Regions from separate parts of the Homo sapiens genome. Here region 1 is linked to region 2. Evidence: fine-mapped expression QTL. Tissue or cell type: whole blood. Region 2 holds a variant in brackets; the other region holds the start of a gene. All regions are shown on one strand. Distances are from middle to middle.

Region 1 (4,000 bases), 22 kb before region 2:
CACCTCACCTCTTGGTCTTGGTAGCTCTACTTCCTTTTTCCTGGAAACTCTCCCTACCCCTTCCACATGGCCAAATTCTGTTCATCCCTCGGGCCCTTTCTCTTCCATGAAGCCGTTCCCAGTCCCTTCAGCCCACATGGTCCTGTTTTCTAAACCCTGTAGAACTTGCATTTGACATCCCACATGCTGAATCAGAGCACAATATATTATACTATATTTCAGACCACCCTGAGTGGCTGCCTCTTTCTCACTGAGAGGGTCTGTCATGACAACTATGATAAGTATTTTCATGACGCTGTCCACATGCCACACACTGGCCTCCACGTAGTCCTAATTTATTTGCTCCTCACACAGATCCTACAAGCTAGGCATTGCTACATCATTTTGCAGTAGAGCACGCTGAGGCACACAGAGGTTATGTAGCTTGCCCACGGTGATATCCCTATTAAGCGGTAAAGGTAGGTTTTGCATTCAGGTGTCCAGCAGCAAAGTCTGAGATCTTACTATCAGTCGAAAATTTTGTTTTAGCCAATTTGAATATGCTATATTGAATATGCTGTAGATTAAATAGTGAAATGTTTCTTTGGTTATGCTTTAACTATATTTGAGCATTCTTGATATTTTATCAGGTCTCTGTTGTCTCTGATCACCAACAAGGTTATAGACTCTTTAAGGTGGAAACTGAGCCCCTTCCTCCCTTTCTTCTCTTTCTCTCAAATTCTCTCCCTATTCTTTCTCTCTCTCTCTAATGCACATGTGTGTGCGCTCTCTCTCTCTCTCTGTCTCTCTTATCCTCCTTCCTCTTTCTTTGTCTTTTGTTCCTATGTTTTCTTTATCATGAAGCATACAGCACAGTCCTACACACATATCAAACGTTTGATAAACACTTTGGTGCATTACACTCATTTGTCGAGTTAGTCAGTGTATCAAAGATCACTTCATGCTTAGTCAGAGTTCTTCCCACAAATATTGGGTGAATACCTGCTCTGTGCCCAGTGCCATGCTAGGTCCCAAGGGACACATCAGCACATACAGCAGGCACATGGCTCTGCCCTGTGACGCTTTGCCCTGAGACATGGCTCTGCCCTATGACGCTTATGTCACAGTGGCATTCTACCCACACTTTACATTTCCTTAGCCCTGTATATTCTGCAGAGACTTTTCACATATTTATCTTAGTTGGTTCCACGGCAATGCTATGACTTAAATATCATTATTTCCAGTTTAGAGATGAAAAAGCTGAGGTCCAGCAAGTTTAAATTACTACCCCCAGCTTATGTAGCTGTGTATGCCACAACTGAAACTCAAACTCAAGTCTTTTAGACTTGTCTAAACCTTTGCAGCCACATTTTGCCCCATCCAAGTGTCTACTGGACCCTGCAGAATAATTAGTTTATTCCTTTGCCGGGAAATTCTTATTTCATTCTTCATCCTGTCTCCCGATGAGTCAAATCAATGCTTATTCAAGAATTATAAATCCCAGGTCTTTAGGAGGCCGAGACTCGCAGATCACTTGAGGTCAGAAGTTTGAGACCAGCCTGGCCAACATGGTGAAACCCTGTCTCTACTAAAAATACAAAAATTAGCCAGGCATGGTGGCATGTGCCTCTAATACCAACTATTCCAGAGGCTGAGGCAGGAAAATCCCTTGAACCCAGGAGGTGGAGGTTGCAGTGAACTGAGATCATGCCACTGTACTCCAGCCTGGGTGACAGAATGAAATCCTGTCTTAAAAAAAAAAAAAAAATTATAACAACCCCCCACCACTAAAAATGAGCAATGCCAATGGGTGGAGAGCCCCTAAAGCAGCACTAATTGCAAGGATTTCTCAGGTGACTGGTTAGTATGTGGTGTCAATCATGAAAAAGAAGAACTGCACGAAAGTATCTTTCTGAAAACTTGCAAAACTGAGAAGCTAGTCTGTTTAAAACAGGAAGTTATATACTTACATTGTTTACTACTTTACTAATGTCTGTGATCTGATGGTATCTCTGTTTCAGGAGTGGTGACGCCTAAGCTATCACTGGACATATCAAGGACTTCACTAAATTAGCAGGTACCACTGGTCTTCTTGTGCTTATCCGGGCAAGAACTTATCGAAATACAATAGAAGTTTTTACTTAGAAGAGATTTTCAGGTAGGTGTCGCTTTTCCAGGAAAAGGGAGGTGGAACAAGGAGGGGTCCAGGCAGGTGGAAGTAGTAACTTCCAGCAGTGCTCTTGGATCTAGGAGGGAGGAGAGGAAGGTACACAGCAATTTAGAGGTAGTATGGGGCCAGAGTGGGAGAAAATATGGCCACATATCTCCATTTTCTTCTTGCTTTTTCTAATTTTCCCTTTCTGTCTCCCATCCACACAATGATAAGTTTGCGTGTAGCACTCACCCAAACTTGGCCCTTTATACCTCTTTAGTCAACATCTGTGCCCATGTTACCCTCCTATACTTTCACAAATTCTCAACTATGTGCATATGACTACTCCAAAGAGCTTACACTTAATAGCTTGTGTTTATTTATATTGACTTGTAAGAAATAGCAAAAATATAATTTTACATATATATGTGTATATATATATATATACACATATATATATATATATATATACGCACACACACATACATTTTTATATATACAAAGTCCTCCCTCAGTATCTGTGAGGGATTTGTTCCAGGACCCTTGCAGATACCAAAATTCATAGATGCTCAAGTTCCTTATATAAAATGATGTAGTATTTGCTGATAACCTACAAATATCCTCCAGTACCCTTTAAATACAAGTACCTAGATTACTTGTAATACCTAATACAACGCATACAGAGCGCTTCATTCATGTGGAGTCAACATAGCACTTGCTGCGTGGCAAATTCAAGGCTTGGTTTTTGCAACTTTGTGGAGCTTTTTCCCAGATATTTTTGATCCGTGATTGGTTGAATACACAAATGTGGAACCCATGGATACAGAGGGCTGATTATATACATATGTGTGTGTGCATTAAGTATGTATGTGTGGAAATATATATATTTATTTGAAGTTTTCATTGAAAATCCACACTAAATCAAGCTACTAGATGAGTCAGTTGATTGATTTGGTGTCTTTTTTTCTGGGTGAATGAGATTGTCTGTGTTAGAGGGTAGAGCTAGAAAGCCTTACCGATTCTTCTGGAAACGCCTGGATTGACAGAGGATGAGTGTTAACTTTGACAAGTACTTCAAGTGAGAGTGGTGGGAATAAGGGGTCTTCCACATGGATGTGGTATAAGTTGAAGTATATTTTTGAAGTGCAGCTCTTTCCAGAAAATGGTGATGATTACACTGAACCACGCAGGATGAGTTAGCTCTTCTGGGAGAAGAAATATGAGCCCTTTGTATGACTTAATAAGAAAAAAGCAGATCTGTACAGCAGAATAAATTGGGTAAAGGGCACAAAGAGATAAATCACAGGAAGGGAAATATGAATGACTAATACTTGTAGTTAAAAAAAATCAGTAATGAAATAAATGTTAATTACAACAATAATGGCAACCCTTTTGCCCATCTAATTGGCCAAGTAATTTTTTCTTTCTTTTAGATCTTCTCCATATTGATGGATGCTTGCTGAAATGGGCACCATCACCTACTAGTGCCAAGAGTATATATATTGTTACACACTTTCTGGAAGCAATTTGACAAAATGCATCAAGAGACTTCGAAATATAATTCAATGTAGAAATTGTGATTTGTGTAATATACCTTAAGGAAATAATTTTAAAATGCACACAAATATGTTTATTGCAGTATTATTTATAGCAGAGCAAATTGTGAATAACTTAATCACACAACAAAAAGGCAATGGTTAAATAAGCATGATTATCTATACAATATGTTGGAGTCATTACAAATTACATTTTTAAGTAATTTTTAGCCACAAGGAACTAGGTGAAAGGTAAAGAAGTTAAGGTATCAGAATACAAAATGATATACAAGTGTACTATCTTTCATGCGCGTCCGTGTGAAGAGACCACCAA
Region 2 (4,540 bases):
TACCTCATGAGTATATTAGCTACAAACCACCACAGCAGGTTCCAGAAAAAGGCTCAGCGTTGGAACCAGGTCACCCCCACTCAGCAGACACCAGTCATATAAATCAAGGACCAACAGGAGACAGGAACACCCCCTTCCCACTCTGCCCCATGTCTCAAGTTGTAGTGGCCCTTCCTCCAGATCTCTGCCACCATCTTAGAAAGGAACACTGAAAGAAGAAACTGAAATTATAAGCTGACAGCATAAAGAGGATGAGTAAAACCTAAAATCATTGTTCAAATGAATGAATCAAGAGAAGTTTAAACCACTTTGGACTAAAATGTGTGAATCCTTTTTCCTGCTATCCAGCAGATGAGAAGCTGGTAACAGAGACCAAAATAGTTTGGAGACTAAAGAATCATTGCACATTTCACTGCTGAGTTGTATTGTGAGTAATTTTAGTTGACCTCACTTTTGTAAATCTTGCACACGGGCATCCATATCTGCACAGAGATATGTTAACAGTGGTAAATGCTGCATGAGGAGATTGGGTGATTTTTACTTTCGTTTTTGTGCTCTTCTTTCTTATTGTTCTTACTTATTTACGATTACCCTATCGTTTTCCAAAATGTAAAAGGCCATTTTGAAAGCCTAATTCAAACCTCTTCACTATTTTGTATCTAAGTATTCACCTTGATTGAGACTGGGTAGACAGGTGAAAACCATATCAGGTTTTTAATTTTTTAATTTTTAATTATTTATTTATTTATTTATTTTTTGAGATGGAGTCTGGCTGTCGCCCAGGCTGGAGTGCAGCGGCGTGATCACAGTTCACTGCAGCCTCAACCTTCTAGGCTCAAGGGATTCTCCCACCTCAGCCCCCCAAGTAGTTGGGACCACACGTATGCGCCACCATGCCTGGCTAATTTCTTATTTTTTTGTAGAGATAGGATCTCACTATATTGTCCAGGCTGGTCTTGAATTCCTGGGCTCAGGTGAGCCTCCCACCTGGGCCTCCCAAAGTACTGGGATTACAGGCATGAGCCAAGGTCCCCTGCCCATATGAGATTTTCTGTCTCTGATCCCATGCAGCTAGTAATCAAGGACTTGGCTGCTGACTCTGGAGGACCTGCATGCTTTCTTGAGCTGTGAACTTCAGTGCTAAAAGCTCATAGGCAGCCCTGAAACCCAAACCAAAAGGTTCTATGGTTTATCATCCCGATCATGTTGATTTTATAGAAATAACACATGAATTAAAGACACTACCCTCAAACTGAGCAAAACTTAAGTAATTTTTTTAAAGTTTGACCTGTTTTTAAATCACTCTTGGAGAAAAAGGAAAATAAATACAAATAATTAACGGTGAATACAGGCTACTATACCTTTGTTCTCCAGAATTAGCAGTTCTGTTCTTTTCTTGCTTTAGATGCTGAAGTGCAGAAGGACACTCTGTGATTGTACGTGTGTAACTGACAAAATGTGTATTTTTTTTCTCAGCTGCTATGGATTGGATTATGCTATTATGAATAAGAATGCTGATGGGAGCACACACAAACCATTTGTTCCTCAGTCCATTTTCCTCCTCAAAAGCCTGGAATGTGCCATTGATCAGTGGGAGATGTACCTGGACAGACCCATGAAAAGAGATCAACAAGTTCCACCCAAGGGACCCTATTTTTCCTAATTTCATTTGAAATGGCTTCTAATTGTCCTTCTTTCATTCCTGCTTCCTACCAGTTTTACAGCTTTTTCTGGTTTCAAATGTGAACTCACATACACTCTCATTTTTCCTCATCACAACCCCAAGTGACCCAATGGTCCTCACTTTCGATATAAGTAAAGGAGGCTCTGCATTAAGGGCTTGTCCAAGGCACGCAGCTGAGAGGCGCTAGGACTGGCTCCATTTCCATCTCTATTCTCACTGACTTTGACTACCCAGAACCCCAACATGTGGGGCCTCAGTATTCGATCAATTATTCTATTAAGAAGCAAAAACAATTCCCCGCATTGGCCCCAGTTATTAAGCATTTCTCAGATTTACCTTGAGAAATGCC[C/A]ATCGGCCTGTATATTCACATCTTCACCCTTGTCCCTTCCTCCTAGAAAGGAGAAAGTCAGTTGGATGCCCTCTGAGGAACTAGTGCATGGCTTAACTGTCCTTCCATGACTCCTGCCTTATCTGTTTTCTATTTTCCTCCTTTTCCACCGAAGTCTATAATCTCAAGAAAAGCAGGCACTGGCCTTAGGGCTCCTGGCCTAAGAAATATCAAGTCCAGTGAGAAATCCCATTGACTGACCCCTCCTGCTTACCCCTTTGTGATGGAGAAGCTCCCAGGGGTTTGCTTTTTGCATGTTACCAGGCCTAACTCAGCATCACCAGGGGCAAGAAAAGGAAAGTAACCTAAACTAATGCTGCTTATAATTGTAATTATTGTAATAGTTAATTACTGTGATTGTACATGTGTAACAGACAAAATGTGTATTTTTTTCACAGCTGCTGTGGATTGGATTATGCCATTTGGAATAAGAATGCTGTTAAGAGCACACAAGCCAGGTTCCTCAAGTCCGTAGCAAATTTTTCAAAAGTTAAATTTAAAAATCACTACATTTGAATCTAGTGACAGGAGAAATGGACATGGATAGAGACTAAAGATCTAGCCCAAATTTTATATTTACTTGTTAGAGGATTTTGAACAAATTACTAAATTTCTTCAAGGTTCAATTTCCCCATTAACTATAATGAATGGCTCATCATTATGGGGCCCTGGAGAAGCATAATTACTTGTAATTGTAATAATCATTGTTATTATTATTATACATATTTTGCTTTTAAATGGATAAGGATTTTTAAGGTATATGTAAACTGTAAAACATAAAATGCAAAATGCCGTAAGAGACAGTAGTAATAATAATGATTATTATATTGTTATCATTATCTAGCCTGTTTTTTCCTGTTTTGTATTTCTTCCTTTAAATGCTTTCAGAAATCTGTATCCCCATTCTTCACCACCACCCCACAACATTTCTGCTTCTTTTCCCATGCCGGGTCATGCTAACTTTGAAAGCTTCAGCTCTTTCCTTCCTCAATCCTTTTCCTGGCACCTCTGATATGCCTTTTGAAATTCATGTTAAAGAATCCCTAGGCTGCTATCACATGTGGCATCTTTGTTGAGTACATGAATAAATCAACTGGTGTGTTTTACGAAGGATGATTATGCTTCATTGTGGGATTGTATTTTTCTTCTTCTATCACAGGGAGAAGTGAAATGACAACCTCACTAGATACAGTTGAGACCTTTGGTACCACATCCTACTATGATGACGTGGGCCTGCTCTGTGAAAAAGCTGATACCAGAGCACTGATGGCCCAGTTTGTGCCCCCGCTGTACTCCCTGGTGTTCACTGTGGGCCTCTTGGGCAATGTGGTGGTGGTGATGATCCTCATAAAATACAGGAGGCTCCGAATTATGACCAACATCTACCTGCTCAACCTGGCCATTTCGGACCTGCTCTTCCTCGTCACCCTTCCATTCTGGATCCACTATGTCAGGGGGCATAACTGGGTTTTTGGCCATGGCATGTGTAAGCTCCTCTCAGGGTTTTATCACACAGGCTTGTACAGCGAGATCTTTTTCATAATCCTGCTGACAATCGACAGGTACCTGGCCATTGTCCATGCTGTGTTTGCCCTTCGAGCCCGGACTGTCACTTTTGGTGTCATCACCAGCATCGTCACCTGGGGCCTGGCAGTGCTAGCAGCTCTTCCTGAATTTATCTTCTATGAGACTGAAGAGTTGTTTGAAGAGACTCTTTGCAGTGCTCTTTACCCAGAGGATACAGTATATAGCTGGAGGCATTTCCACACTCTGAGAATGACCATCTTCTGTCTCGTTCTCCCTCTGCTCGTTATGGCCATCTGCTACACAGGAATCATCAAAACGCTGCTGAGGTGCCCCAGTAAAAAAAAGTACAAGGCCATCCGGCTCATTTTTGTCATCATGGCGGTGTTTTTCATTTTCTGGACACCCTACAATGTGGCTATCCTTCTCTCTTCCTATCAATCCATCTTATTTGGAAATGACTGTGAGCGGAGCAAGCATCTGGACCTGGTCATGCTGGTGACAGAGGTGATCGCCTACTCCCACTGCTGCATGAACCCGGTGATCTACGCCTTTGTTGGAGAGAGGTTCCGGAAGTACCTGCGCCACTTCTTCCACAGGCACTTGCTCATGCACCTGGGCAGATACATCCCATTCCTTCCTAGTGAGAAGCTGGAAAGAACCAGCTCTGTCTCTCCATCCACAGCAGAGCCGGAACTCTCTATTGTGTTTTAGGTCAGATGCAGAAAATTGCCTAAAGAGGAAGGACCAAGGAGATGAAGCAAACACATTAAGCCTTCCACACTCACCTCTAAAACAGTCCTTCAAACTTCCAGTGCAACACTGAAGCTCTTGAAGACACTGAAATATACACACAGCAGTAGCAGTAGATGCATGTACCCTAAGGTCATTACCACAGGCCAGGGGCTGGGCAGCGTACTCATCATCAACCCTAAAAAGCAGAG

What was found.
Region 1: CCR3 starts here. The variant in region 2 is fine-mapped to the expression of CCR3 in whole blood (TOPMed, PIP 0.98).

Annotation. Positions count from the first base shown.
Region 1 is chr3:46,240,402-46,244,401 of GRCh38, forward strand. CCR3 (C-C motif chemokine receptor 3) reads left to right here and starts at 2,059. Exons shown (of 2, transcript NM_178329.3): 1 at 2,059-2,137. RefSeq lists an enhancer at 3,993-4,000.
Region 2 is chr3:46,261,917-46,266,456 of GRCh38, forward strand. It overlaps CCR3 (C-C motif chemokine receptor 3), which reads left to right. Exons shown (of 2, transcript NM_178329.3): 2 at 3,232-4,540. The coding sequence starts at 3,243. The coding sequence ends at 4,310. Among named protein-coding and RNA genes, the nearest start is that of CCR3, 22 kb to the left of the region's middle. The variant C/A (reference allele first, on the strand shown) is at 2,034.